4 linked regions of the Homo sapiens genome follow. The protein of the gene in region 2 purifies or fractionates together with the protein of the main gene of each other region. This does not show direct contact. Each region holds a gene or a part of one and is shown on either strand. Other genes may lie near its edges. The genes, in order: SLBP, GSTM3, ECT2L and PLS1.

Evidence for each region.
Region 1: the proteins of GSTM3 (region 2) and SLBP purify together in Homo sapiens (affinity purification with mass spectrometry; 3 studies listed by BioGRID and IntAct, with this or other methods). This does not show direct contact.
Region 3: the proteins of GSTM3 (region 2) and ECT2L purify together in Homo sapiens (affinity purification with mass spectrometry; 3 studies listed by BioGRID and IntAct, with this or other methods). This does not show direct contact.
Region 4: the proteins of GSTM3 (region 2) and PLS1 purify together in Homo sapiens (affinity purification with mass spectrometry; 3 studies listed by BioGRID and IntAct, with this or other methods). This does not show direct contact.

The regions. Positions count from the first base shown.
Region 1 is NC_000004.12:1,709,312-1,717,049, reverse strand, and holds the start of SLBP (histone RNA hairpin-binding protein), read left to right. Parts: upstream 1-4,730; 5' UTR 4,731-4,861; coding exon 4,862-4,920; intron 4,921-5,059; coding exon 5,060-5,176; intron 5,177-7,738. UniProt on the Homo sapiens protein: RNA-binding protein involved in the histone pre-mRNA processing.
Region 2 is NC_000001.11:109,738,020-109,745,909, reverse strand, and holds the start of GSTM3 (glutathione S-transferase Mu 3), read left to right. Parts: upstream 1-4,871; 5' UTR 4,872-4,957; intron 4,958-5,398; 5' UTR 5,399-5,622; coding exon 5,623-5,670; intron 5,671-6,001; coding exon 6,002-6,077; intron 6,078-6,416; coding exon 6,417-6,481; intron 6,482-7,543; coding exon 7,544-7,625; intron 7,626-7,718; coding exon 7,719-7,819; intron 7,820-7,890. UniProt on the Homo sapiens protein: Conjugation of reduced glutathione to a wide number of exogenous and endogenous hydrophobic electrophiles. May govern uptake and detoxification of both endogenous compounds and xenobiotics at the testis and brain blood barriers.
Region 3 is NC_000006.12:138,792,219-138,799,105, forward strand, and holds the start of ECT2L (epithelial cell-transforming sequence 2 oncogene-like), read left to right. Parts: upstream 1-3,868; 5' UTR 3,869-3,974; intron 3,975-6,887. Other genes in the region: CCDC28A (coiled-coil domain-containing protein 28A), read left to right, coding at 531-585.
Region 4 is NC_000003.12:142,591,569-142,599,407, reverse strand, and holds the start of PLS1 (plastin-1), read right to left. Parts: upstream 3,016-7,839; 5' UTR 2,899-3,015; exon of another isoform or gene 2,060-2,898; intron 1-2,059. UniProt on the Homo sapiens protein: Actin-bundling protein. In the inner ear, it is required for stereocilia formation. Mediates liquid packing of actin filaments that is necessary for stereocilia to grow to their proper dimensions.

The sequences.
Region 1 (7,738 bases), on a different chromosome or scaffold from region 2:
CTGGGTCTGCAGAAGGCTGAGGACTTTTGGTTAAAAGCAATCCTCATGAAAACACCCCACCCTGCTTGGCAGCCAGGGTACAAGTCCTGGGCACCTCCTCTTTGCCTCCCTCCTGCCCCTTTCCTGCTGGTGGGGGCAGATCCTGCACACACAGACACAGCGTCTGCCCCCGAGCCATTCCCTGGAGACCCTGGGTCTACCCCAGGTGGTCGTCATCTGGGCCATTTGCCTTACTTCTCTGGAGCATACCCACCCTCAGTTACGTGCCAGACCTGGACCGCATTCTCCTGCCCTGTCCTGGAGCTGGCCCCTGGCTGCCTGGAGGACCCTGGGTAGGTCCTGAGGGTGGGATGGAGAAGAGGGCACTGCTGTGGTGTGGGAGCAGTCCTGGGGCTTCCTGGTGGCTGTGACCAGTTGAGGGGCTGTTCCTGGGTGGGGTGGCAATGGGAGGACAGGTCAGAGCGCCCTCATTTGTGGGGCTGCCCCTCCGGGTTTCTCATCCTGTCCTTGGTGCCTTTTTCTGCCCAACAAGTCCAGGGAAGGCCGAGGTCTCAGACTCCTGGGTAGGGGTGGGGGTTTGAGTTGAGGACCAAAGTGCCATAGCGACATCCAGAACACAAGCCCACCAGGGGTCCAGCCCAGGCTACCCACTCCCCTAGGGTCTCCCAGGCTCAGAAGGGGATGCACGCCCCCTGTGGTCAAGCCTCTGGTGGGCGTCTTGCCCAGTTCCTGATGGTTCAAGGGGAGGGGGGATGTTGGCCAGGCCCCAGGGCACAGCCCTGACACAGGTGTGGCTACTGGAGGGGCCTTCATACCTGCGGCCCCAAAGCCCCTGGGCTTGGCTGTTTGAGGCAGAGGTGATGGACTCCGGGGGCCTGACACTTGGGATTTGGGAGGCTTCCTAGAGCGCTCAGCAGGTGAAGGCAGCAGGGGCCATGGCCGGGAGCCAGGCCTAGCTTTGAACTGAGTTTCAAGGGCTGCCAAAGAGGGGCAGTGGGTTGGGGTTGTTTTTACTACAAAATAAGTTACTTAGTTTTATAAAGACAAACCGATTGTAGCCAAATGACACCATATTTAATAAAATTTAGTCTGAAGTGATGTACTGTGTTTTGTGTTGCCCGATATTAAAACCAAACTTTTGTCATAGTTGGAGAATGGCCTGTGGGTATTGGAGAAGCCACCTTAGAGGTGGAATTGCGTGCGTGGCGTGCTTTGTTCAGAATAAGGAGGAAAAACCCATTGGTTGGGAGGCGGGTACAGTAGGAACCTTCCCCTCTGATTTCTGGTTAGGGACTCTGGGGTCTTGAGAACCCCTGACCCAGGGCCCTCTGCAGGAGCAGGGTGGGAGGGGCAGAGACACGTCCTGGGGGAAGTCACTGTGTGGTCGCCACTGCGGCTGCTTCCAGATGCAGGAACTGATGTGGGGACACATGGGTAGCCAAGGAGTGAGCAGCCTTTCCGGTTCACTTATGTTTGCAGCTGCGTCCTGTGAGGACACCAGGCTGTCTCTACTGACCTCACTGTGGGTCAGGGTGGCCCAGGAATTGCCAGCCGAGCACCTAGGGCAGCCAAGACAGCAGCCTGGGGTTCCCCACAGCACTGGGCCCTCAGGTGAGCACCCCAGCAACCGGACAGTGAGTGCTTGCTGCCTTTTCCCCATTCTGCTTCTTGACCCACAGGATGGTTCTTGGGGAAACAGTACACGTAATCCTATTGAAAGATATGACAGTGGGCTCTAGTTTCCTGCGCTACGAGTGTCTTCAGATTCTTTCCAGCCTGGTACTTTCACTGGCATTCTTTTGCATACACAGCCAGGCGCTGCTTTAACCAACAACAGAGATCCAGTGAGCATCTACTGAGGGGCTGTTATGGGCCCTGACTGTGCCAGGCCCTGTGACTCACAGGTACTTGGGACTCTTTGGCTCTGTACTGTTAACTTAGAGAAGAGTTTATTTCTTCTAAAAAGTTACAGCCTGACGAGAATCGCTTGAACCTGGATAGCAGAGATTGCAGTGAGCCGAGATCGCGTCACTACACTCCAGCCTGGGCGACAGAGTGAGACTGTCTCAAAATAAAAATAGTTAACAGCCTGCAAGATGGCCATCCCTCAGACTGGAAAGCACAGCCTCTGGCCAAGACCAGAGATGGGCACTTCAGAGGAGGAGGAGGAGGGGTTGGGGCAGGAGGTTTATGCTGAATGGGTTGGCTAAACATGCATATTCAGCAGGTGACAGGAGGAGCTATGAATATTCATGAAGGCAGTCCTGACGCATGCATCCTGAACAAACATACAATCCACATTCACTTTGGGGTGGAGACTTAACATTTAAAATGTATTATAATGAGGTTCTACACAGGCCAGAAGTGGTCCATCACTGTGGTCTCTTATCTGGACCAAGTTACTGAAATCAGTCTCTTGTCCAATGAAACTGTAGTTATGGCTGGTGGAATAGGGGCTGGGGGATCAGTCAGCATCCGGTGGAACTGCAAATTGGTTTTTATTGTTTTGAGACAGGGTCTTACTCTGTCGCCCAGGCTGGAGTGCAGTGGCGCCATCTGGGCTCACTGTAGCCTTGACCTCCCAGGTTCAAGGAATCCTCCCACTTCAGCTTCCGAGTAGCTGGGATCACAGGCACACACCACCATGGCCGGCTAATTTTTTTGATTTTTAGTAAAGATGAAGTCTTGCTATGTTGCCCAGGCTGGTCTCGAATTCCTGAGCTCAAGCGATCCTCCCACCTCAGCCTCCCAAAATGCTGGGATTACAGGTGTGAGCCACAGTGCCTAGCCTTTTTGTTTAAGTTTTTTGTAAAGATAGGGTCTCGCTGTTACCCAGGCTGGTCTTAAACTCTGGACCTGAAGCAATCCTTTTGGAGGCTTCAGCCTCCCAAAGTGTTGGGATCACAGGCATGAGCCATCATCTCGGCCACTGCACTGTTCCAATATTGCTTAGCTCAAGGCCAGTGCTTATTGAGCTACTAAGAGGAAAAGAAAAGCAGTGTGGCAGTAGGAATATAGTTTAAATGTAGGGTGTGTGACTTAACCCTTGCCTGGCATGACCTTAGGTCCTATTCATAATTTGGTATCTTATTGCCACTGGTGTCCCCTTGACCGCAAGGGGGTCCATTCAGTTGTTGGGGGCTTAGGATTTTAATTTTTTTTGAGACAGAGTTCTGCTCTTGTTGCCCAGGTTGGAGTACAGTGGTGCAATCTTAGCCCACTGCCTCCCGGGTTCAAACAATTCTCCTGCCTCAGCCACCCGAGTAGCTGGGATTACAAGCATGCGTCACCATGCCAGGCTAATTTTGTATTTTTAGTAGAGACAGGGTTTCTCCATGTTGGTCAGGCTAGTCTCGAACTCCCAACCTCAGATGATCCTCCCGCCTCGGCCTCCCAAAGTGTTGGAATTACAGGCATGAGCCACCGCGCCCTGCCAGGATTTTATTTTTAGTTTACAGTGTTGAGGGTTATGGGATGCCCAGGGCCTGGGGAGGAAGGGGACAGGATGTGTCCGTCCTAGTCTGAGGATGACTTTTTTGAGTTCAAAAGGGGGCGGTGGACGCACCAAGGCACAGTCCTGAGGGCAGCAGGTGCAAAAGTCCGGCCCTCCCAGAGGTGTAAGGCCTTAGAGGGATCCCAAGCATCCCTGGGGCTCAGCCTCCTGGACCTGACCCCACTGCCCACTCTTTTGGCTGGTTCCACTCTCCCCTGCATCCCTCACGTTGTCCCCAACAGGAAGCTGTGGGAACCTGTTCTCAGGTGTAGTGCACCCGTTGGGGTTCTAGTTGGCTGGATCCGCGGGGCCGTCAGCTGCAACTGTGACGGCGGGGAAGCGGGACGGGATGGTGCGGATCTACAGGACCTCGCCTCCAGGTGGAACCTACCTGCTGAGCCAGGGATTCTTCAGGATACAAACCCAGTCAACTCCAGGCAGAGGGTGGGAGCGTCATGCACCGGCGACACAGTGGAGGACGTCATGGACGGGCAGGGAGGCAGCGGCAACCGAAACTAGCGGCTCAGTCGGTGGCCGGTGTGCGGTCAACGGCCAGGGCAGTGGGACCGGAAAGACTCAGTGTAGTTGTCAACTGTTGCGACCTAAAAGGTTACTCCAAAACTTTAAGCGGCTCAAAACAATAGACGGCGCGTACGGGGCCTGCAGCGGCCACGGGACCGTGGGAAGCAGTCAGTACCCGCCACAGGCCGCGCCTTCCGGGTTCCGGGTTCCGGGTTCCCGCCAGGGAGGAGACACGCCCCCACCTGGGCAGGAACCAAGCAGAGCCGCGCTCCACCCAGGCCGGAACCAATGGGAGATGCGCCACGACCCAGGCCGAGAAACGTGCCGCTTACCCTTCCCCCACGACCTGCGCCGCGTCGCGCGCGGCCGAATCTCCCGCCAAAGCTGCCCCCGCCCGCCAAGGCGCGACCTATCAGCGTCGCAGAGGCCCGCGGCGGCCCGGCCGCCTCAATCCCGCGGGTGGGGGCAACCTTTTCCTCAGGCCTCTCCTCAGCCCACGGCGTCCATCTGGCTCCCGAGCCGAGGGCCGGGCAGTCGGGCTTCGCGGCTGCCCGCGGTCCCGAGGCCTCGCCCTAGCCCCAGTCGGCTCGCGAGGCGCGCACAGCTGAGTGGACCCCTGCGGCGTGGCCCGATGGTCTCGCCCGACCCGGCGCGCGCGGGAGGCCGAGGGGCGGGGCCCGGCGCCCACATAAAGGCGGTTGGGGGCGGGGCGCGCAGAGCTCGTGAGCGCCGGCGCGGGGACGCGGGTTTCTGCCTCAGGCCCTGCCCTGCTCTACTCTGCGCTCTCTGCCCGCGCCGCCGCCGCCTCAGCCTCGGCCCTGCGCTGCGCGCCCGGCCCGTGCTGCCATGGCCTGCCGCCCGCGAAGCCCGCCGAGGCATCAGAGCCGCTGCGACGGTGACGCCAGGTGAGGCCGGGCTGCGCGGCGGGCGAGGGAGCGCGTGCCCCGTGGGGCGGGGGTTGTGCGGGGCCGGGGTGTGGGAGGGCGGAGGTTGTAAGGCGGTCCCGAACCTCCCGTGCCCAGCCGACCGCGTCCCTCCCCGCAGCCCGCCGTCCCCCGCGCGATGGAGCCTGGGACGGAAGCGCAGAGCCGACGGCAGGCGCTGGAGGCCCGAAGACGCCGAGGAGGCAGAGCACCGCGGCGCCGAGCGCAGACCCGAGAGGTGGGCGCGGGACCCGGGGGTCGGGGCGCGGTGGGGCCCTTGACGAGGCCGCGGGCTCCAGGGACCTCGTCGCGCTCTCGCGGTGCCGGGATCGGTCAGGTCGGCACCCTGCGTCCTTTTATCTTGGTCTCCGCGCGGCCCGTGGACTGGGGCGGCCGCAGCAGGCCTGGGAGGCGCTGGAACACTCCGGAAGCCTCTTGCCAGGATGGGAGTCAGCTGAACCGGCGTCAGCCCGAGTTAGCCAGTTCGAGTCTGTGTTGTGCTCCCGGGAGAGGTCAGGGTCTCTGACGAGCTTCTCGTGAACACGTGGAAGTCAGGGACACCCGAGTCCCGAGGAGAAGTGAGTTGACAGGGCTTACCTGCTTGGCCATTTTCTGGGTTAGGCAGTGTGCAGGGAGGGTGGAGATGCGAGCGAAAGGAGGGCTTGATGGGGTGGGACGGCCGAGGAGGGTCTGGAGGAAATAAGCAGGGGTGCCAGTGGTCGTAGTGGCGGGGCTTTTCGGGGCTGTGGTTAGAGAAAACTTCTCGAGGGGCTTTGGGGTGGCTCGTCCCGCACTGGGGGCTTGTTGCTCCTGAGTTCCCTGAAAGGCGTGGTGACTTGGCCGAGATGGAGCAGTGAAGGTGGAGGGAAATGCGTGGTTCGGGATAGGCTTCTGAAGGCAGGACCTGTGAGACTTGCTGATGGGTTGGGGATGGGAGGCGTGAAAGGAAAAAAAAAAATCGGACCCAACTTCACTGTGCCAAAAGGAAAAAATTATGCTGAGCGCGGAATCATGCAAGAAACTACCTTTGCGTTACTTTTTTTTTTTTTTTTTTTTTTTTAAAGACAGGGTCTCACTCTGTCTCACAGGCTGGAGTGCGGTGACGCGATCTTGGCTCACTGCAGCCTCCCCCTCCCGGGTTCAAGTGATTCTCCTGCCTCAGCCTCCCCAGCAGCTAGGATTACAGGCGCATGCCACCGCGCCCGGCTAACTTTTTGTATTTGTAGTAGAGACAGGGTTTCACCATGTTGACCAGACTGGTGTCGAACTCCTGACCTCAAGTGATCCACCCACCTTGGCCACCCAAAGTGCTGGGATTACAGGTGTGAGCCACCGCGCCCGGCCACCTTTGTGTTTCTTTTTTTTTTTCTAAGCAGATACCTACAGATACAAGATTAAATATCTCCACGGGTGAACTCTGTTCACTTTAAGTGGCGACTTACTGAGCACACTAGGAATACATAATTGACTATTCCCCTACCTGCTCCTTTTCTCTTGGAACATGTAGATCTTTCTCCTTCAACCTACTTTTCTCTTTTAAATATTGAAGCCCTGACAGTCATCTCTGGAGAAAGGCACAGACCACAGACTCTTTCTGTAATTTCGTGTTCTTCTAGGTATGTCCTTAACATTAGCTAAATTCCTAAAGCAATTGAGACCTGTCTCAGACACTTTTTGGTTTACACAGGAAAGAGGCATCAAGAATGACTCAAGCCTTTAGGTCTGAACGCTGTTGATTGGGGCCATTTGCTAAGATAGAGAAGATGGGCTGGAGCAGCTAGGCATGGGAAGTTGTGAGGCTTGAGAAGCTGCTTAGAGAAGCAAAGGAGATGTCAAGAAAGGTAACGGAGTGTAGGAGTCTACATGGGAGGCATCTTCAGGCACAGTGAGTTACCAGGACATAGAGATGATATTTAGAGACTTGGGTCTAGGGGGCTGGGCGCAGTGGCTCCTGCCTGTAATCCCAGCACTTTGGGAGGCCAAGGCGGGCCCATCACCTGAGGTCAGGAGTTCGACACCAGCCTGACTAACATGGAGAAACCCCATTGTTGGGGACCAGCCTCGACACTTACCCGGAATGAGAAGAGACAGGTTAAGAGCTCATAAAGGTGGGAGCCAGGGGACCAGTTGGAAAATGGAGGCTGCAAAAGGCCCGGAGTTGCGGTCTCCACACTATTTATTGAGTACAATCACTTTAAGAAGTAGGCCGGGCGCGGTGGCTCATGCCTGTAATCCCAGCGCCTTGGCAAAAGGCGGGTGGATCACGAGGTCAGGAGATGGAGACCATCCTGGCTAACACGGTGAAAACCCGTCTCTACTAAAAATACAAAAAATTAGCCGGGCGTGGTAGCGGGCGCCTGTAGTCCCAGCTACTCAGGAGGCTGAGGCAGGAGAATGGTGTGAACCCGGGAGGCGGAGCTTGCGATGAGCCGAGATCGCCCCACTACACTCCAGCTGGGGCAATAGAGCGAGACTCCGTCTCAAAAAAAAAAAAAAAAGAAGTAGATGTTCAGGGTGAAACAGTGAAAGGGAGGCAGGCGTCATAGGCGTAATTATAGCGGTTTCAATGAATCTCCTTTGTGCTCAAACAGCATATCTAACTTATTGGAGAGTAGCTAGTGGGAGCGGGCTTAACTAGGAGCCTGCAAATCTGTCCACATTCCAGTGCTTTAAAGGAATGTCTTTCTTCTTGAACACTGTTTACAGATAAGAGAGCAGGTCTCGCTCTGAGCATGGGAACATGATGGCAATTAGGAGGCTTTCCTCCTCAGAGGCCTCTTGTGGCTTTTCACAACTTACT
Region 2 (7,890 bases):
CACAAGAGAAAGCAGGAAAGATCCAAAATTGACACCCTAACATCACAATTAAAAGAACTAGAAAAGCAAGAGCAAACACATTCAAAAGCTAGCAGAAGGCAAGAAATAACTAAAATCAGAGCAGAACTGAAGGAAATAGAGACACAAAAAACCCTTCAAAAAATTAATGAATCCAGGAGCTGGTTTTTTTTAAAAGATCAACAAAATTGATAGACCGCTAGCAAGACTAATAAAGAAGAAAAGAGAGAAGAATCAAATAGACGCAATAAAAAATGATAAAGGGGATATCACCACTGATCCCACAGAAATACAAACTACCATCAGAGAATACTACAAACACCTCTACGCAAATAAACTAGAAAATCTAGAAGAAATGGATAAATTCCTCGACACATACACCCTCCCAAGACTAAACCAGGAAGAAGTTGAATCTCTGAATAGACCAATGACAGGCTCTGAAATTGTGGCAACGATCAATAGCTTACCAGTCAAAAAAAGTCCAGGACCAGATGCATTCACAGCCGAATTCTACCAGAGGTACAAGGAGGAGCTGGCACCATTCCTTCTGAAACTATTCCAATCAATAGAAAAAGAGGGAATCCTCCCTAACTCATTTTATGAGGCCAGCATCATCCTGATACCAAAGCCGGGCAGAGACACAACCAAAAAAGAGAATTTTAGACCAATATCCTTGATGAACATTGATGCAAAAATCCTCAATAAAATACTGGCAAACAGAATCCAGCAGCACATCAAAAAGCTTATCCACCATGATCAAGTGGGCTTCATCCCTGGGATGCAAGGTTGGTTCAACATTCGCAAATCAATAAATGTAACCCAGCATATAAACAGAACCAAAGACAAAAACCAAATGATTATCTCAATAGATGCAGAAACAGCCTCTAACAAAATTCAACAACACTTCATGCTAAAAACTCTCAATAAATTAGGTATTCATGGGACGTATCTCAAAATAATAAGAGCTATCTATGACAAACCCACAGCCAATATCATACTGAATGGGCAAAAACTGGAAGCATTCCCTTTGAAAACTGGCACAAGACAGGGATGCCCTCTCTCACCGCTCCTATTCAACATAGTGTTGGAAGTTCTGGCCAGGGCAATTAGGCAGGAGAAGGAAATGAAGGGTATTCAATTAGGAAAAGAGGAAGTCAAATTGTCCCTGTTTGCAGATGACATGATTGTATATCTAGAAAACCCCATTGTCTCAGCCCAAAATCTCCTTAAGCTGATAAGCAACTTCAGCAAAGTCTCAGGATACAACATCAATGTACAAAAATCACAAGCATTCTTATACACCAATAACAGACAAACAGAGAGCCAAATCATGAGTGAACTCCCATTCACAATTGCTTCAAAGAGAATAAAATACCTAGGAATCCAACTTACAAGGGATGTGAAGGACCTCTTCAAGGAGAACTACAAACCACTGCTCAAGGAAATAAAAGAGGATACAAACAAATGGAAGAACATTCCATGCTCATGGGTAGGAAGAATCAATATCATGAAAATGGCCATACTGCCCAAGGTAATTTACAGATTCAATGCCATCCCCATCAAGCTACCAATGACTTTCTTCACAGAATTGGAAAAAACTACTTTAAAGTTCATATGGAACCAAAAAAGAGCCCGCATTGCCAAGTCAATCCTAAGCCAAAAGAACAACGCCAGAGGCATCATGCTACCTGACTTCAAACTATACTACAAGGCTACAGTAACCAAAGCAGCATGGTACTGGTACCAAAACAGAGATATAGATCAATGGAACAGAACAGAGCCCTCAGAAATAATGCCACATATGTACAACCATCTGATCTTTGACAAACCTGACAAAAACAAGCAATGGGGAAAGGATTCCCTATTTAATAAATGGTACTGGGAAAACTGGCTAGCCATATGTAGAAAGCTGAAACTGGATCCCTTCCTTACACCTTATACAAAAATTAATTCAAGATGGATTAAAGACTTACATGTTAGACCTAAAACCATAAAAACCCTAGAAGAAAACCTAGGCAATACCATTCTGGACATAGGCATGGGCAAAGACTTCATGTCTAAAACACCAAAAGCAATGGCAACAAAAGCCAAAATTGACAAATGGGATCTAATTAAACTAAAGAGCTTCTCCACAGCAAAAGAAACTACCATCAGAGTGAACACGCAACCTACAAAATGGGAGAAAATTTTCACAACCTACTCATCTGACAAAGGGCTAATATCCAGAATCTACAATGAACTCAAACAAATTTACAAGAAAAAAACAAACAACCCCATCAAAAAGTGGGCAAAGGATATGAACAGACACTTCTCAAAAGAAGACATTTATGCAGCCAAAAAACACATGAAAAAATGCTCACCATCACTGGCCATCAGAGAAATGCAAATCAAAACCACAATGAGTTACCATCTCACACCAGTTAGAATGGCAATCATTAAAAAGTCAGGAAACGAGGTGCTGGAGAGGATGTGGAGAAATAGGAACACTTTTACACTTTTGGTGGGACTGTAAACTAGTTCAACATTGTGGAAGTCAGTGTGGCGATTCCTCAGGGATCTAGAACTAGAAATACCATTTGACCCAGCCATCCCATTACTGGGTATATACCCAAAGGATTATAAATCATGCTGCTATAAAGACACATGCACACGTATGTTTATTGCGGCACTATTCACAATAGCAAAGACTTGGAACCAACCCAAATGTCCAACAACGATAGACTGGATTAAGAAAACATGGCACATATACACCATGGAATACTATCCAGCCATAAAAAATGATGAGTTCATGTCCTTTGTAGGGACATGGATGAAACTGGAAACCATCATTCTCAGCAAACTATCGCAAGGACAAAAAACCAAACACCGCATGTTCTCACTCATAGGTGGGAACTGAACAATGAGAACACATGGACACAGGAAGGGGAACATCACACTCCAGGGACTGTTGTGGGGTGGGGGGAGGGGGGAGGGATAGCATTAGGAGATATACCTAGTGTTAAATGAGGAGTTAATGGGTGCAGCACACCAACATGGCACATGTATACATATGTAACAAACCTGCACATTGTGCACATATACCCTGAAACTTAAAGTGTAATAATAATAAAATTTAAAAAAAAGAAAGTAATGCAAAAACTGCAAAAAAAAAAAAAGAAAAAGAAAAGAAAATGGGCATAACACCTACTTCCTAAAGTTGTTGTGAAGCTTAAATTGGAATAAATTAGCTAACATACGTAAACACTTAGATATTGCCTGGCATATGATAGGTGCTCAATAAATGTTAATCTTATACCTCAGGTGAATTTGTGACTGGCCTTTTGCTTTCTTGGGAGGAGAGACACAGGCATTATAAATTTCACCTGTCCATGTGGTTTGTACTCTTCCTTTCTTCTGTTTAGCAAAATGCCCTTTTAAAAAGTCCCAACCTTGCTTCAGTTGAACTGATGGGCAAATGTGATTTCCCACACCTGAGCTAGGGGATCTAGGCTCTCAGACTGCCCTGAGAGCTGTGCTGCAGAGGCCTGGCCAGAACCCTCAGAGCAGCTCCGGACTCCTTCCTCTGTCACTCCTCCACATTCAACTAGAATCCTATGTCTCCCGAGTTGACCCTGTTGCAAATCTGTGCCCCTTTTCATTTGCATGGGCCCTGCCGAAATTCAGAAGCTTAGTTCTTCCCATGACTATAGGGGCCTCGGGCAGGTCTCTTGCTCTGTCAAGGTCAAAACCCCTACTTTCCTAAATTCAACCATTGATTCTCCATCTTCATCTTACTTGATCAGCCACACTTGACATAGTTGATCACTTCTCCCTTTAAACATCTTCACATGGCTTCTGGGACCTTTTGTTTTCCTCCTACCTCCCTGGCCACTCCTTTTCAGACTCCTTTGCTGGTTTGCTCTCATTTTTCCCTAACCTTTACATGTTGATATGCCAGAGCACCTCAAACCCTTAGACCTCATCTCTGCTACTCGTGCTCCCATGGTGATCTCATCTAGTCTCTGGTTTCAAACACAGAGTGATCACTCCTGTACTTGCTGTTTCCCTTTTCCTGGAGTTCTCTCTGCCTCCTGCAGGTAGGAAGTGATTCGAGATAAGAGAGGGAGAGAACTCTTCTGGCCAGGATAGAGGGTGATTCTGAGAAGGCTTCAAGGAAGAAGTGAGCATTTGAGCACGGCTACTTGAGGAAGGCTAGGCCATGGACATTAGGGTGCAGGCAGGAGCAGAGCAAACATGCTTGTAAAAGGAACAGCAATTATTCTGTTTTATATTTATATCAGCCCATGGTGGCCCCCACAGCAGAGTGGCTTGATCTCTCACCTCCTTCAGGTCTTTGTTTAAAGATTAACTTCTCCATGAGGCCTTCTATGAACATAACCTTTAAAAACATAAATCCCCTTCCTACTGGGACTCCCCCAGTTCCCACCCTGAGACCCCCTATCTCTCTTCTCGATTTTATTTCTCTCCATAGGATGTGTATCACCACCTGACTTACTAGCTATTTACTATATATTAGTTTATTTCTTCCCCATTAGAATGTAAACTTCCTGAGGGCAGGGATTTTGTCTGTTGAGTTCAGTTCTGTATCCCCAGCACCTAAAACAGTGCCTGTCCATAACAGGCATGTTAAACATTGTTGGACAGATGAATGAGTGAATGAAAAATGGTAGTACCTTTCCTCCTCCAGTCCATCCTACACAAAGAGGCAAGATTAATTTCCCTAAATGCGTGAGCATTAGGAAGTGGGAGGGATTGGAGGAGGAAATTATAATAAGGAATCCATAAATTACTTAAGCCCATAAAACAAAGGTAGGAAACATTCAAGATAAGAGACCTCTTCTGGCCAGGATAGAGGTTGGTTCTGAGAAGGCTTCAAGGAATAGGCAGACATTTCAGCAAGGCTGCTGAGGAAGGATAGGCTGTGGAAATTAGGATGCAGGTAGGAGGATCACAGAGCAAACACTCCAAGGTGGGAAATGCAAGTGTGTGTAGAAGGAACAGCAAGTATTGTTGGGTTGGGCTGGCTTATGAAGTTGTGACGGGCTGAGGGAGAGACAGGACTGGAAAAGCACGTTGGGGTCAGGTTGCAGAGGTCCTTGACTGACAGAGAGGGGAGCTTGGTCTGTGGGGAATCTTCTGCTCTGTGTGGTCAGAGGCTGGTCTGACTCTCCGGCCTTGCCCCAGTCTTCCTATCCTTCATCCAGCCCCGGCTGGCTCGGTAAAAACGGCGCGAATCTCGCTCTCCCTGGGTAACTAGGGTCCCCACTGCCTGGCTAGTGGTGCTTTTCGCGTCTTCACTGGCACCATTAATGAATGAAGTCTGGCTCCCACCCGCGGGGAAGGGAGGAGCCTCAACCTCGGGTCCTTTGCTCTCCTGCAGCACTCCTGCCCGGGTCCCGCCTCGGGGTCGCCAGGCCCTGAACCCCAACGCCGGCATTAGTCGCGCCTGCGCACGGCCCTGTGGAGCCGCGGAGGCAAGGGACGGAGAACGGGGCGGAGGCGGAGTCAGGGCGCCCGCGCGTGGGCCCCGCCCCCTTATGTCGGGTATAAAGCCCCTCCCGCTCACAGTTTCCCTAGTCCTCGAAGGCTCGGAAGCCCGTCACCATGTCGTGCGAGTCGTCTATGGTTCTCGGGTACTGGGATATTCGTGGGGTGAGTGCCGTCTCAACGGTAGAGCCGCTCGGTCAAAGAGACTGACGCGGAGAGGGCGGGTCTCTGGGTCCGCGATCTCCAGCAGGAGCAGCTCTACGCGGGAGCCTTTTCGAGCTGCCGAGCCACGGATGTCGACCCCTGCCCAGCCTCTGGGATCGCGGGCCCTGTGGGGAGGGGCGGAGGAGACCACGCCGGAGCCGGGCCTAGGGGCCGCTTAACCACCGCCCCGGCAGGACGCAGGGACTCGGCAGCCCCGGGCCGGGGAACGTTAGCGGGCGGGGGTTGGGAATGGGTGGGAGCTGCGCAGTCGCTGAACCGCTGTCTTCCCCAGCTGGCGCACGCCATCCGCCTGCTCCTGGAGTTCACGGATACCTCTTATGAGGAGAAACGGTACACGTGCGGGGAAGGTAATGCCGCTCCGCGTGCCCGTGCAGCCAAGCTGGCCCTCCACCTGCCCTGGTCTTCTTACGCCCAGAGGGTGGTGGCGTCGCGCCAAGGCCGGGTGGGACGTTTGCCCCAATCTGGGTGAATAGAGACACATCCTTTATCTGGAACTGGGGGTTCTCTTTTTAACATAGCCCAAACCCGTCTTAATGCTTAACCAAATAGGGCTCAGAGGCTCAATGGTTATGCTTTTGGGGCCTGGGAATTTGAGGTATTGGGACCAAGTCATTTCTTTAGATCTTTTGCTCTTGTCAGGTGGGGTATTAAGGAGGTTGGGTCCCACTTAATTCCGTCTCTTACAGCTCCTGACTATGATCGAAGCCAATGGCTGGATGTGAAATTCAAGCTAGACCTGGACTTTCCTAATGTAAGTGGCTTTAGTAGAGGTGGCGGGCAGAAGGGAAAGCCTTCAAGTATATCCATCCTTGCCTCTCTCCTGCCTGGTACAGAAGGATGCAAAATAGGGGATCTTAACCCGGATAGAATAAATAGAATTCAGGGGTCCTTGAACTGGATGGATATGTATTTTCATTCCCATTAACCACTAGCAAAAGTTATTTCCTTTTATTGTGAAGAGAGACAATAAGTGACATTGGTTATTAGCCATGTCTGTCACTTTGTCACTAGTAGAAATCAGGTATTTTCTTTTTTGTGTGTTTCTTGTTCTTTTGTTTTGAGACAGTGTCTCACTCTGTCGCTCAGGCTGGAGTGCAGTGGCGCAATCACAGCTCACTGCAGCCTCAACCTCCCAGGCTCAAGCAGTCCTCCCACCTCAGCCTCCCAAGGAGCTGGGACTACAGGCACACACCACTATGCCCAGCTAATTTTTGTATTTTTGTAAGAGACGGGGTTTTGCCATGTTACCCAGGCTGATCCTGAACTTCTGGGCTCAAACAGTCCTCCCACCTCGGCCTTCCAAAGTGTTGGGATTACAGGCATGAGCCACTGTGCCCAGCCTGAAATCAGGTAGTTTCATATTCTATAACATGCGTTGCAGATATTTTAAGTGATATTTATATACATGTAAGTAAATATATACATATAATGTTATTTACTTTGAGATTATGTTAGTCATTACATCTGCTTGCTATTTAATGCACTAATAGGCACATGTTACTCTTATTTGAATTTTTAAAAATATTTTTTGATTGTGTAAATTATCTATTTTGCTTCATGCATTTAACAACTTTATTCTGAGAAAAGGTCCATGGCATGCACATACACTCACACATACACACACCAATTTAAGAACCCCTGTCTAGAATCTTGTGGACCCAGTTGCTACCTTCTACTTATTTTCTTTTTTCTCCTAACACAGCATCTTCTCACTCTTGTTCACTGCCCTGCAAGTGTTCTTTTCCCCTGGAGAGAGAGGTAGGGAATCAAGAGAGAGGCAGGTTGTTCATTTGTCCTGTCCTTTTCCTTTCAGCTGCCCTACCTCCTGGATGGGAAGAACAAGATCACCCAGAGCAATGCCATCTTGCGCTACATCGCTCGCAAGCACAACATGTGTGAGTGGGGTAGGGCTGGTGAGGGACCCCAGGCTGGTAGTTTGTCTGAGAGTGGATGATGCCAAGGGTGATTTGTTGTCATTTGGCCTACAGGTGGTGAGACTGAAGAAGAAAAGATTCGAGTGGACATCATAGAGAACCAAGTAATGGATTTCCGCACACAACTGATAAGGCTCTGTTACAGCTCTGACCACGTGAGTTTCCTTAGCACACATCTGCTGAATGGAGTATCAGAAAAAGGGGTATTTAGGAACCCAAGGGTTAT
Region 3 (6,887 bases), on a different chromosome or scaffold from region 2:
GATTATTGACACATTAAAAATAACTCTGGGCCAGGTGTGGTGGCTCGCACCTGTAATCCCAGCACTTTGGGAGGCCGAGGCAGGAAGGTTGCTTGAGGCCAGGAGTTCAAGACCAGCCTGGGCAACATAGCCAGACTCCTCCCCCATCTCTAACAAAGAATAGAAAAATTAGCCAGGTATGTTGGCACATGCCTTTGGGAGGCTGAGGTGGGAGGATTGCTTGAGCCCAGGAGTTCAAGGCTACAGTGAAGTATGATCGTATTACTGCATTCCAGCCAGGGAAACAAAGTGAGTCCTTATCTCTAAAATTTAAAAAAAAAAAAGTCTTCAAATTCTAGACAAGAGTATAATTTACTACATTTAAAAGTTGTCTTACCACATCTGAGTGTCTCAGTAGCAACACAAGAGCTTTTCCTTTGAACATATCTCTTTTTTAAATACCGCTTTCTCTTTGCTCCTGAATGTAATTTTCAGAAATGTAAAAGAAGTACCCCTTATAGAATGAAAATCTTCTTAACTGATTAATTCAGACAAAAACTCCATTTGGCAGATGCACAAGATGTTCCAAATACTTCTGCTAGCTAAAATGAAATGTAGTTTGCTTTCTTGTGATTTGAAGAGAAGCAGCAGTCTTTACTTTTCCAGCCAAATCCAGTAGCAGAATCATCTTCCACAACAAGGAATTAAAGTAATTAAAGTGCAAGTTCAATGATCGTTTTCACTTACTGCTTTTAGTAAATGTGACTCGCTGTAATTCACCATAACTGGAGGCCTAGGCCTTGTTGAAGGCTTCATCAGGAAATGTGACGCAGAGATTGTGCTGCTGTGCTTCATATTGTTGCCTTATGGGATTATACTTGAAATGCATTGTGCTGATGTTCTTGACAGGGCGGAGGGATTTCTCTTTCCTGAGCTCACCAAACTTATTCCAGTGTTGATCGCAAGCTGTTGATGCACAGGCGTCTTGTGGCAAGCCCAGCTTCAGTTTATGTTAGACAATCAGTACACATGCTGGTGTGTTTTCCAATGGCCAGTGATAAGAAATTAAATAAGTATTTGTGAGATTTGCTATTTTTTAATAAAGTAATTGTTTTAAATTAATCTCTGTTGTCTGTTTTGAAGAAACCCATATAGTCTTCAATCTGGGAAATACAAGGGTTCAATCCTTAAAAGTAAACTGTGTTTATAAAATTTGAGGTTCTTGAACTCCTTGCAAATTCTGTACCTTGTGTACATTTAAATACTGGTGTGATGAAAGAATGTGAGCTTTAAAGTTACTTACACCTTAATTTGAATCGCCGTTCTGCCCCCTTAACTTTGTGTTCATGCACGTTTACTCAGGTTGGATTTTTTTCTTTTTTCTTTTTTTTTTTTTTAAATCTAGAAAATGAGGTCAGTAACCAAGTTGGTAGTTGTTGTATGGGGAGTAAGTGAAAAAGCGCGTATAGGATGCTTAGCACAAGCCGGGCACGGTAGCTCACGCCTATAATCCCAGCACTTTGGGAGGCTGAGGCAGGTGGATCACTTGAGGTCAGGGGTTCAATACCCAGACCGGCCAACATGGTGAAACCCCATCTCCACTAAAAACACATACACACAAATTAGCCGGACGTGGTGGCGGGCTCCTGTAATCCCAACTATCAGGGAGGCTGAGACACAGGAATTGCTTGAACTCAGGAGGCAGAGAGGTTGCAGTGAGCCGAAATTGTGCCACTGCACTCTAGCCTAGGCGACAGAGCAAGACTCTGTCTCAAAAAAAAAAAAAAAAAGAGAGATGCCTAGCACAATAGCTGATACCAGTAATGCTCAGTAAACATTAATTTCATCACCCTTTAAAAACAGCTTTATTGAAACAATAATTTATGTCATAAAATGTACCCCTTTAAAGTGTACAATTCAGTGATTGTTAGTAGATTCATAGAGTTATATACCCATCACCGTGATCTAATTCTAGAACATTTTCATCACACTAAAAAGAATCCCATTAACAGTCACTCCTTGTCCCCTAATCCCCTCAGCCTTTGGCAGCCACTAACCTCCTTTCCAGCTCTCTGGATTTTCTATTCTAGACATTTTATATAAATGGAATCATACAATACGTGGCCTTTTGTGACTGGTTTCGTTTACTTAGCATGATGTTTTCAAGGATTGAAGCTTCATCCATGTTATTGCATGTACTTCATTTCTTGTTTTGGCTGATCATATGCCATGGTATGGATAGAACACATTTTGCTTATTTATAACTCAGTTACCTTTGTGTTGCAGAAGATGCTCATGCTTCTGTCTCCTTGTTTCCAGGCCACAGAAATAAGCACCTAATTGGGGGAGGGGAGGAGAGGGACTTACTGAATATTTTTCAAATCTTGATTTTAATAATTTTTGGCTTTCTGAATTCAAAGTATTTTGATCAGTAAATTGGTCTTTTTAATACCCCTTTTAAAAATTACAGCATCATGGAGGAAACTTCATTTGGGTTGTGAGAATAGGGATTTAAGGGGGAAAAAGTCGTACTCTAGGGTCTGACAGGGCGAAAGGACACTTTGTCATGTGACATGTTTTTCTTGGATTGGTCCTGAGATAGAGTAAAGCAAAAAGCTGGTTCCTGCGGGTTGTGACAGAGCAGTGGATTGACCTTGTTTATTCACTTGGTTCATTCGCCCTTTGTGTCACAGGGCCCTAAATGGGTCCCAGGTAGCGAAATATTAGCTTATCTAATTTGTATCCTTTCACACTCCTTAAACACATGTTCAAGGAAACAGGAAAAAATGCAGTGCCTGGATTAGAATAAAATTTAAGGCCTGGTTTGGTGACAGGCACCAGTACTTTTAGCTACTCTGGAGGCTGAGGCGGGAGGATTGCTTGAGCCCAGGAGTTCTAGGCTATAGTGTACAATGATGATTTTACTGGCATACAGATGAAAAAGAAAAAGATATTTGAAATAAAAATAAAAATATAGTGCACAATGACCAGGCCTGTGAATAGCCACTGCACTCCAGCCTAGGCAGCATAGCAAGATCACATTTCTCATATGAAACTTTACTAGAATGAAACTTATGGTTTATTACATAGATGTTGCTTATTCGTTGTAGGAAAAATTGAATTACAGATGATTTTTAAAACTACCAGAGCAAACCATTTAACCTATTTGTGTACATACTCCCAGATTTCTTACACACGTTGCAAAAAAAATAGATCGTACCATTCTGCTGGTTTTCTAAGCTGCTTTTTGTAAGTAATGTACTGTGAGCATCTTTTCATGGCCATAACTATTACATACAAAAGAAAAAAACAGGCTTCACAATAAATAGTTAAAAGACATTTTGACCTGAAACTAATGAAGAAGGGTTTTTTGGTTTTGTTTTTGTACCTCCTGTATAATGCTGAAATTGGTAATTCTGCAGTAAATATTAACATTTTCTGAGGATCTGCTGAAGATGAATGTGACAAAAAATAAGAAACTCCACTTTCCTCATCACACAGCCTTAATTAACATCGCTGGCTTTGTTTGAGATCAAGCAAACGTTGGCTTCAGTGTCCAAGTCTCTTCTTGGGGTCCCACGGCCTTGGGTCTGGCACCTCTGCTGGGCACCTCGCAGGGCTTCCGAGACGTGCCGCGACCCACGGGACCCCACGGAAGCTTTCTCCCACCGCAAGCTCCCTGGAGGCAGGGAAAGGAGCCGGGACCCGAGCCTAGCTGGCCTCAAGAGAAGGGCGGTGGCTCGCACGGCGCGGGCGGCTTTGCTCACTGCAGCTGGGGAGATGCAGGTTGGCCGTCCGGGCGCGGCGGCGGGAGGGGCTGCGGGCCTGTGGGGCGGGGTGGTGGCTCCGTGTTGTTGGATCCCTATGGAGATGACCCTGTCCCTGCCCCACCCCTCTCCGGAGCTGCGGCCCGAGTTGGCGCACTCGATTTTCACTGCGCGGTTCCAAGAGGAGACAGCCGCCACTGTACCGGGCCTCATAGCCACTTCCTAGAGGTAAAGCCCGTGGCTTCTGAGCCGCTAGTCTTTTTCTTGGGGCCGCCCGGGGCACATCGCCTGGGCCGGCTTAGTTTCCCAGTGCAGTCGCCCAGGAAGACCCTAAGCAGCGCTGAGGGGCGCAGGGCCCTCCCTCCGCGACCCTGGAGTCCCTTAGCAGCTCTGGAATTAACCAAGATTCTGAAGAGGCTCTGGGGAGAAACAAAATCCACGCGTAGGGTAGGGTTTGCATCGGGCCATGCCAAGTAAACTCTTACCTCCTCCAGAGAACTGATTTGGGATCGAAGTAAAGTTCTTGAACACTTTGGAAAACGCTGATTTTCATAGGTTCACACCAACTGCCTTCTTCCTTCTGACAGTTCTCTCCCTCTTTCCTCCTATGGGGTCCAAAAATGTAGGGAGTAGGGTGGGGGCTGGGTTGGGGGAATGAGGGAGGAATACAAAAAATCTACTGTGAATATAGGTCTTGGTTATAAGGATAGCTCTAAGAGTTAATATGCTAAGATTTGATGAGCAGGACAAATAAAACAGTGGTACTTTAAAATATCGATTTAAAAATACCGATGCTGTGCTTATTAATAAACTTTGCATATGTATCAGAACACAATATCCTGACATCATTGGTGTTAAAGTTCACTGCAACCCATGCAATTGTATCCAAGCCTGTTAAAGTCTGTTCTGCAGGAACTGACATTTGTGCTCCACAGAAACCTCAAAAATCATGCTCTACAAACACTTATTTCAGTGGGAGGAAGAAGGGTTAAGGACTTGGAAGTTTTATAGCAACAGTTGCATCTTGTTTGTTACAGCTTTAGTTTTATAGCTTTAAACTTATAAATCAGTGAGCACATCCACCATTTGAAAATACCAGCACAAGTATGGTATTTTCTATCACCGCCTGTAAGATCAATAGCCCAGGTTTCCTCAAAACACGCCATTATTTTCATTATCCATTGCTTAGTGTGTACTTAATAAAAATTATATACTGGCATGTAGTTTTACATGCCCTAAATGTGGGACATTTAACTCAACTGGAATTGTCTTTCATTTCTGTTTTTTCACCAATCACACTTACTTTTCTTCTACTCCCGTTCTTTTGTGCGATCTTTAGAACCAGATACCTTTTTGGAGGCATATTTAAGGAAGTAAATTTTTGATAAATAAAGGAATCATTGCACAATTTGCATGTGTGAATTGCAGAAGTACGCGCATGTAGGTACATACCTCTGCCGAGGAGCAGTGTTTTAATTTCTAAGCCACTCTGTCTACTGTAGTGGAGAAGGACCAGACTAACTTGCATTTCTCCAGCTGTATAACAGATAACCTGTGGAAACACAGTTAATTGACATCATTGCTCTTCTGTGTGATCCCAGTGAGGATTTAGCTCTCTATATGGGCTGGCAATTGTTCAGCCATTTCATCTTTTAATCTGGCTTTGGTTGTTCTGAGAGGAAAAAAAAAACAAAAAACTTTTTTCTCTTTACTCTCACACACTCAGTACAGCCCTTCACCTCTTGTCACCAAAATGTATGGGAATTTCTTCCCACCGACAACCAATTCTCCAGTGGCCACCAACTCTACGTCCTATAATTTAACCCAGTTCTGACACTGTGTACCTGGAGTTAGTGTCAGATCCCATACGTTCAGGGCTCAGTCCCAAAAGACTGCCCCCCACTTCAAATGCCAATCACAAGTCCCAGGTTGTGACTATATGTTGTTTATGATTAACCAACCAGTTACAAATCTGGATTCCCACAAGCCCCTCCTCCGGTTTGATTAATTTGCTAGAGTGACTCACGGAATTCAAGGAAACACTTTACTTATGTTTGCCCATTTATTATAAAGGATATTACAAAGGACAGATGAATAGCCAGATAGAAGAGAGGCCCAGAGAAAGGTATGTGGGCAAGGGTGTGGAACTTCCATGCCTTCTCAGCCCCTCCACATGTTCAGCTATCCCAAAGATCCCTGAATCTTGTCCTTTGGGATTTTAATGGAGGATTCATTCATAGGCACAATTGATGACATCATTGGCCATTGGTGATCACTCAACTTGAGCCCTTCTCTCTTCCCCAGAGGTCAGAGGATGGAGCTGAAAGTTCCAGCTGCATAATCACATGGTTGGTTTCCCTGGTAACCAGCCCCCATCCTGAAGCTATCTAGGGGTCCACCAAGATTCACTTCATCTGAACAAAAGATGCTCCTATCACCCAGGAAATTCCAAGGGATTTCGGAGCTCTGTGTCAGGAACTGGGGTCAAAAACCAAATATTAGAACAAAAGATTCTCCTAGCATCCCTATCTACAAGAGTTTTAGGAGCTGTATGTCAGGAACCAGGGACAAAGATCAAATATATATATTTCTTATTATTCTACCATATCACAGGTTGTCACACAACAGGCCCCATCCTTCTTTTGACTAAGCATGGAAGTGCCAATGTCAATTTCCGAGTTCCTCATCAATATACCAGTTGTAAAGGATAGTCAGCCACGACATAGAAGTGTATTTCCAAATACATCCGTAGCAGTTGTTAAAGCAAACTAAATATGGCCTAAGATGGACTCTGTACTTTTATATTTGAATGCTTGTGGGTGAATTGCAACCTAATTTAATAGGTAGACAAGAATGAAAACCTAACTTAGGAGTATGTGCCTGTAATAATCGCTGAGTCTTGGCCAATCCCAGGAGCCGTACTTCAACCACTCATACACTGCTGAGTGTTCAAACTGTGTTCAAATAAGGCAAATGCTGAGCTGTAACCAATCCAGCTGTTTCTGTACCTAATTTCTGATTTCTGTACATCACTTCATTTTTTTGTGTATAAATTTGTTCTGACCACAAGCCACTCCGGGAGTCTCTCTGAATCTGCTGTGATTCTGGGAGCTGCCTGATTCACGAATCGTCCATTGCTCA
Region 4 (7,839 bases), on a different chromosome or scaffold from region 2:
CAGTGAGCCGAGATTGCGCCACTGCACTCCAGCCTGGGCGACAGAGCGAGACTCCATCTCAAAAAAAAAAAAAAAAAAAAAAAAGAATATCTGAGTCCCTCCTCTATACAATTAGGGGATAGTCTGGATAAAGCGCTACCATATAGCTCTAAGATCCTAAATGCCCACCCTCCCCATGGCAAAATGCACTTTTTATTTATTTATTTATTTATTTATTTATTTATTTATTCATTCATTCATGTAATAACTATTGAGTGTCTGATACTGCAAAGCAATGTGCCAGGTATTGTGAAGGGTTAAAGGTCATCCTTCAGAGAGCTTATCATCTAGAACGGGAAATAAGACAATTACATCACTAACTAAGAAACAGAGACAATGTCACAATTCGAGGTACTTTTTTTTTTTTTCAGATGCAGTCTTGCACTGTCGCCCATGCTGGAGTGCAGTGGCACAATCTTGGCTCACTGCAAGCTCCGCCTCCCGGGTTCATGCGATTCTCCTGCCTCAGCCTCCCAAGTAGCTGGGACTACAGGCGCCCACCACCATGCCCCCCCAGCTAATTTTTTGTATTTTTAGTAGAGATGGGGTTTCACCGTGTTAGCCAGGATGGTCTCAATCTCCTGACCTTGTGATCCACCCACCTCGGCCTCCCAAAGTGCTGGGATTACAGGCGTGAGCCACCACACCCAGCCAATTGGAGGTACTTTTAAGATAAAAAGAACATTATAAACCCATTACTAACACCCCAACCCTGAAATTCATTTTCAACATGTCTTTCCTTCTCTGCATTTAGTCTTTCACCACATGCTTCTTCCTTTACATTTCTTAATTCTGTGCCCTCTTTTCTCCACTTTGAGTCACAGGCTTAATCCAGGGCCTGGACCAACTGACCCGTGTTTTTACGCCTGTCTCCTGTAATCCCCCTAACTAATCTGTGATCTGTTATCAAAATATGAGGAATCAGAAATGGACTTGGCTGCTGTCTTGATACAGCTCTAACATGGCCTTCCCCATATTATAGAACACACATGAAATCTCTTTACAAAACTATACATACTGCACTTCCTTCCCCCACTCCCTCCCACAAACAGGGGCTAAGAATATACTTTGTGCTTAGTGCTGGGTGGGATGTTTAAGTCATAGGCTTTAACCTCCAAGAGCTTACACAACCTGCCAACTTCCTGGTCGGGAAGTTGGGAGGTGCTAAAATACTCAGGATACTATATACAATGGGGATACTAACAGCACAAACAACAGTAGTAAGTGCTATAGGGTTCAGAAGAGGGAGAGCTACTTCATGCTAAGGCAATCAAGGAAGGCTTCCAAAAAGAGGTCACACCTGAGCTACACCTTGCAGCATGAGCAGGACTTCAATACGGAAAGAGGGAGGCAAACAGGCATTTTGGGCAAAGGGCCCAGGTGACTGAGGGAAGGAAGGAGGGCGTTTTCAGGACCAGCAAATTGTTAGGTGGGGCTTCAGTGAAAGGGCACTTTTTGAAAGGAATTTATGAGGTACTAGGAAGCTTAGTAAGAGAAACAACTAATTTTCTGCTTAAGCCAGACTTCATGGTATAAGTAGAAGAGAAAAAGGAAGTTTAATAATGGAGGTAAAGAAGAGTATCTGCAGGGAGTGGTAAAAAGACCCCAGAAAATGAGAAAACCTGGATCCCAGGCCTAGCTTTGCCAATGAGGGGCTTGGGTGGCCACAGCAAGTCATCTAACCTCGCTGGTCTCAGTTTTCTCATTTGTAAACTGAAGCAGCTGAACTGGCTGACCTCAAAGGTCTCTACAGCCAAAACTAGACCAGCTGTATATTATTTCTGCCATTAAAACATTTATCATGGGAGGAATGAAGGGGGGCAGGATACCTGTATTCCCTTTCCATATAGGTTTCTCTTCCTGAACTTAAAATTTCCTCTTCCTAAACTTACTACCTCTCTCTCTATATATATATATGCCTCCACATTACACATTAACACTTTACTATAGAATTTCATTACATAATTCAACTTAAAGGAAAGCTGATTACAAAGGTGGTGGGGGGTGTAAAAGTACTTGCTTCAAGTTCAGTGTGTGCCCCCTGTCCTGAAATTTTGCTTCTGGCTCACAGGTTCTTCAAGAAATTTATGCAGCACAGCTGAAGCCTCATACAAGTGTATCCAACACCGTGGCTGGAGGGAAAGATATCACGGTATAAGCCATAAAATGTGACATAGTAAGTAAGTAAAGGAGGAAAAGTGAGAATTCTGTTACTCATCTAAACGACCGCTTCCTTTTAATAGTACCAAATGAAGACCGAAATACAGTAATAATTGAAAAGTTAGGGAGAAATCTTAAATTTTTTTAAGTCTCCACTTGAAAATGCAGCTGAAACACGGAAAGTTTTTTGGCAGTGAAATTCGCTGAAAACTGACATTTTTATGCCGCATCCAGAGGTCCCTATGCTCCAGGAAAGGTACCAAAAACAGCACGGATGGGATTTCACTACAGCCCTATTGATCCTATGCACCAAAAGGCCAAAGGCAAATAAACCAGTCCCAGAATTAAAACAAAACAGGCTGGTTCAGAAAGCCTCACCGGCAGCCACCCAAAGTTGAAAGAAGAAAACTTAATGAAATACCTTATTTCATTGCATAGAATCACAATTCAGTTAACAGGCTTATTGTTTAAGCAGTGTAAATACGCGATTTAACACCTGCGGGCACTGCCTGCCGGGACTGGGCAGAAGCGTGCCCAGAGGACGGCGGGCGCCACACTGCACAGCCAGGAGACGAGACGCGAGCGAGGGGACCCGGAGATACTGCCCCCGAGCCGCCGCGCGCCCCCAAAGGAGTAACGCTTCGCTTTCCATCTGTCTGTCCAGCCTTCCTTTTGGGCCCTATCCCCACCCCCGCGTACCTGCCGCCACCGCTGTCCTGCCTTCGAGAGGGCAGCTCCCACTGGAGATCCAAGTACCTGCAGGTCCACTCTGCGGCTACCTCTCCGCGCCCGCGTAGCCGCTGCGCTCGCGCCACTGCGCATGCTCGGCCGGCACCCGGGCCCGCAAACTCTGAATCCACTTGCCGCGTTTTGCCTGCGGCTCCCAGGGGAGGGAAAGGGAAGCCCAGAACCTGGGTTTAGGCTAAGGGTGAAAGAGGAGTTGCAGGCGCTGGGAGCGTGGATGGGGAGAGGTGGACGGGCGCTGCGGCAACGTTATCTCTACCGCCCACAGTTACCCAAGTCTAAAGATGACCACCTACACCCTGGGAATGAGTTTAGCACAGCAGTTCTCAAACTTGAGCGTGGATCAGAATCACCTGGAGAGCTTTTTAAATCACAGATCCCAAACCCGGAAACTGAGTTTCCGATTCAGTTAGGTCTGGAGCGTAGCGCGACAGTTCCCATTTCTAACATGTTCTCAGCGAAAACTGGTGCTACTAGTCTGGGTACCACACTTTGGGACCTGCTGGTCAAAAGGAAAGGTATACGTTATTAAAGGAAGACTTGTTTCTCTCCCCTACTCTTTTTTTTTCCGTTTGTTTCACGGATTGCTTCCTTTTCCTTTAACAGCCACACCTGATTAAAATAAATATATAACTAAAGCCCACACTCAAACAAAAGTGGGATATTTTCTCTCGCATGTGAGTCAGGTAAATGGAATGCTGCCTCAAGAGTTCTCACATACTTTGCCTGAAGCATAATCCGTAGTTGTGGTCTGTCCAACTCAGTCCAGAGAACAGAACAAGGTTTTGCTGCCCCTTTAACTCAAAGTCCCACGTGCCCCTTCTGCGCCTAACACAATATCCAATACAGAATAGGCACCCAACCAACCCTGAGATGGTAACAATAGAAAAAATAAAGGGGGGAAGTTGAAATTATTTTAAGAACTCAAACAAATTGGACGAGCAATGAACTATGAAAGTAGGTGGGCCATGGAGAGGGAAGATAAGGAATTTTTCCCACCTGCCACCTAGAGAATCAGGTGAATTTAGTATTCTTATCTGATTTTTCCCACCTGCCACCTAGAGAATCTGGTAAATTTAGTATCCTTATCTGATACTTATTTATCTAGATATGCAAGGGGAGTTAAGTAAGTTCTCACAAAATAAAGCAAAATATTTCCTTAAAAGGTAAACATACATCTAACATATGACCCAGCCATTTCATTCCTAGATGTTATCCAAGAGAAATTAAAACATATGCTTACACAAAAACTTGAACAGGAATGCTCATAGCAGCTGTTTTTCACAAAAGCCCCAAACCAGAAGGAACCCAACTGTCCAACAACATGTAAATGAAAAAACAAATTGTGGTATATTTATACAATGCAATACTACTCAACAATAAAAAAGAAGAAATACTCTCACACAGGACTCAATATGGATAACTCTCAAAATCGGTATGCTGAGTTGAAGAAGCTAGAGACAAAACATATTGTATAATCCCACTTATATGAAGTACAAACTAACCTATAATGACAAAACCCAGATTAGTAATTGCCTGGAGCCAGGAGTGGAGGGAAGGATAAACTGCAAATGAGCAGAAAAAATATTTTTGGAGGGGGACGATGGAAATTTTCTCTGTTTTGATGGTAGTGACAAGTTCACAGGTGTATACAACTGTCATCGCTAAGTTGTACACTTTAAACATGAAAAATGTGTGTAAATTATTCACCAATAAGTTTGATAAGAGAACACTTTTTCATGAAATACTCTTATGATCTGTTTTTTTTTCGTGGTAATATTGACCAGGGCAGGTTCATGAGGAAACGTAGATTCTAAATATGGTATAACCTGATTTGGGAAAGGTAAAATAAAAAGTCATCCTCTGTAAATGAAGCTAAAAATAATGCATATAAAATGTCTGTAACAACCCTCTGTAAAAGCAGCCAACCCTAAGATATGATTTGTAAATATACCATTGATAAAACCGTTTCCCAAAATTGTTTCCAAGTGTAAAATAATAACTAGAGTATATCATTAGAAATGCACAACCAGGGCCCAGTGCAGTAGCTCACGCCTGTAATCCCAGCACGTTGGCAGGCCAAAGTGGGCAGATCACCTAAGGTCAGGAGTTCAAGACCAGCCTGAGCAACATGATGAAACCCCGTCTCTTCTAAAAATACAAAAATTAGCCGGTCGTGGTGGCAAGCGCCTGTAATCCCAGCTACTCAGGTGGTTGAGGCAGGAGAATCTCTTGAACCCAGGAGGCAGAGGTTGCAGTGAGCCAAGATCAAGCCACTACACTCTAACCTGGGCGACAGAGCGAGACTCTGTCTCAGAAAAAAAAAAAAAAGAAATGCACAACCAGCGTGTAATAATTATATAAAGAAAATTGTTACCTGCTTAACTGATTGTATCACTAGCAATGACAAATAAGGTATTCAAACTGTGTTTCCAGGAGCTCTGGGTTTCATGGAGAGAAAAATACGCAGGGCTCTGGATCAAGGACCCTAACCCAGACTGCTTACATATTGTAGTATCTTGTGAAATCTTATTTGATAAAAGGGTTTCACTGATAATTTTGTTTTTTTGAGACTGAGTCTCGCTCTGTTGCCCCGGCTGGAGTTCAGTGGCACGACCTCAGCTCACTGCAACCTCCACCTCCCAGGTTCAAGAGATGCTCCTACCTCAGCCTCCTGAGTAGCTGGGATTACAGGTGCACACCACCACACCTAGTTAATTTTTTTAATTTTAGTAGAGACAGAGTTTCTCCATGTTGGCCAGTCTGGTCTCGAACTCCTGACCTCAGGTGATCCACCCTCCTCGGCCTCTCACAGTGCTGAGATTATAGGTGTGAGCCACCGCACCTGGCCATCATTGATAATTAAAAGAGCAATCGTTTGAAAACAATTGAAGTAATAGTATCAGGTCGTAAGAATTCACAAAGAGATGGTATATTTGGTGGACCTGTTTTTTGGCTTGCAGAGCAATGAGAAAAAATACATACAAAGATTTTTAAACTAGTTAAAAATGTACACTGTAGTTATAGTAACCATATGTTCCAATTTTTGTAGAATAGTCTTCATTTAAATATTTGTTTATTACATAAATTATATCTAATCATGTATTCCAACTGTTGGTTGAAAAAAATAACATCTTTTAAGCTGGGGGTTGTTTTTCAAAATAATATAAAAAATCACGAACTAAAAATAAAACGAGGATAAAGCAGGGCATGGTGACACACACGTAATGCCAGCATTTTGGGAGGCCAAGGTGGAAAGGGCACTTGAGCTCAGGAGTTCAAGACCAGCCTAGACAACGTGGAAAAAACCCATCTCTAAAAAAAAAACAAAACCAAAATTAGCCAGGTGTGGTGGCATGTGCCTGTGGTTCCAGCTTCTCTGGAGTTTGAGATGGGAGGATCTCTTGAGTCCAGGAGTCTGAGGCTACAGTGAGCCATGTTCACTACACTGGACTCCAGCCTGGGCAACAGAGCAAGACCCTATCCGAAAAAAAAAAATTGAGCTGCTACTGGGTAGTCACCATTTTAAACACTTCACCGTATTTACTCATTGAATATCCATGCCAACCCTATGAAATTATCCTCAATTTACAGATGAGAAAACTGAAGTACAAAATGTTATTTTTCCCATGATAACACAACTAAAGACTAAATAATTACAACTACATTTTTAAAATATATTTTATATAAAGACAATCTTTGCTAATTTCACAGTTTCCAAGGATCCATCTGAATTATTAATTTATTTTTCCAGGCTCATTGATACTAAGAGGGCTACCAAAAAAGCAGAGCTCTAGTGATTACTGCCATCATCATCTTCATTATCATTGCTAATATTTATTCCATGTCTTCTATGTACTAGCTACTGTGCCAAGAAGTTCACATTGTTTATTTCATTTAATATTCATGAAGACAAAAGTGCAGATTCAATAATAATAGGTAACAAAGACAGCGAATGGCGGAACCAGGATTCCAACTCAAGAGTGAATGGCGGGCCGGGCGCGGTGGCTTATCCCAGCACTTTGGGAGGCCGAGACAGGTGGATCACTTGAGGTCAGGAGTTCAAGAACAGCCTGGCCAACATGGTGAAACCTCATCTCTACCAAAAAATACAAAAATTAGCTGGGTGTGGTGGCATGTGCCTGTAGTCCCAGCTACTTGAGAGACTGAGGCAGAAGAATTGCTTGATGCAGGGAGGCAGAGGTTGCAGTGAGCTGAGATCACGTCACTGCACTTCAGCCTGGGTGACGGAGTGAGACCTTGCCTCAAAAAAAAAAAAAAAAAAAAAGCTAATGGAAGAACCAGGATTCAACTCCAGTTTTCTACTATTTACAATACTGGTCCCTGTATTCTAAGGGAAAAATATTGGCATTCTGGATTATAACCGAGTCTCTGTGAATGTGGCTAATGTTAGTTCATTCCCCAGAGCCTGATGGTTTCTAACATGCTTATAACCACAACACCCCACTGCAACCCAGCCCTGATCAGCATCCCGAAATCAGCTACTATATAGGCACCAATTTTACAATCAATTTTAGAAAAGTAGGTGCATTCTGAATGATACCAGCAAGTGTGATGTGACCATATTTATTTCATTTGGCTGGTTTTTTTTTTCCAGAACAAAGAGAGTAGAGAAAAAAACATATGTGAGAAAGACTAAGATTCAATATTCAGTCTGTGGCCATACCACCCTGAACACTCTCGATCTCGTGTGATCTCGGAAGCCAAGCAGGGTCAGACCTGGTTAGTACTTGGATGGGAGATTCAGTATTCATTTCAACTCTGAATTTATGATAAATCATTTAGAAGAGAAAACAATAATATGAGAAATAAGTCCAAAAAAACAGGGCAAAACTTCTCTCTCTCTCATGCATACACACACACACACACACACAC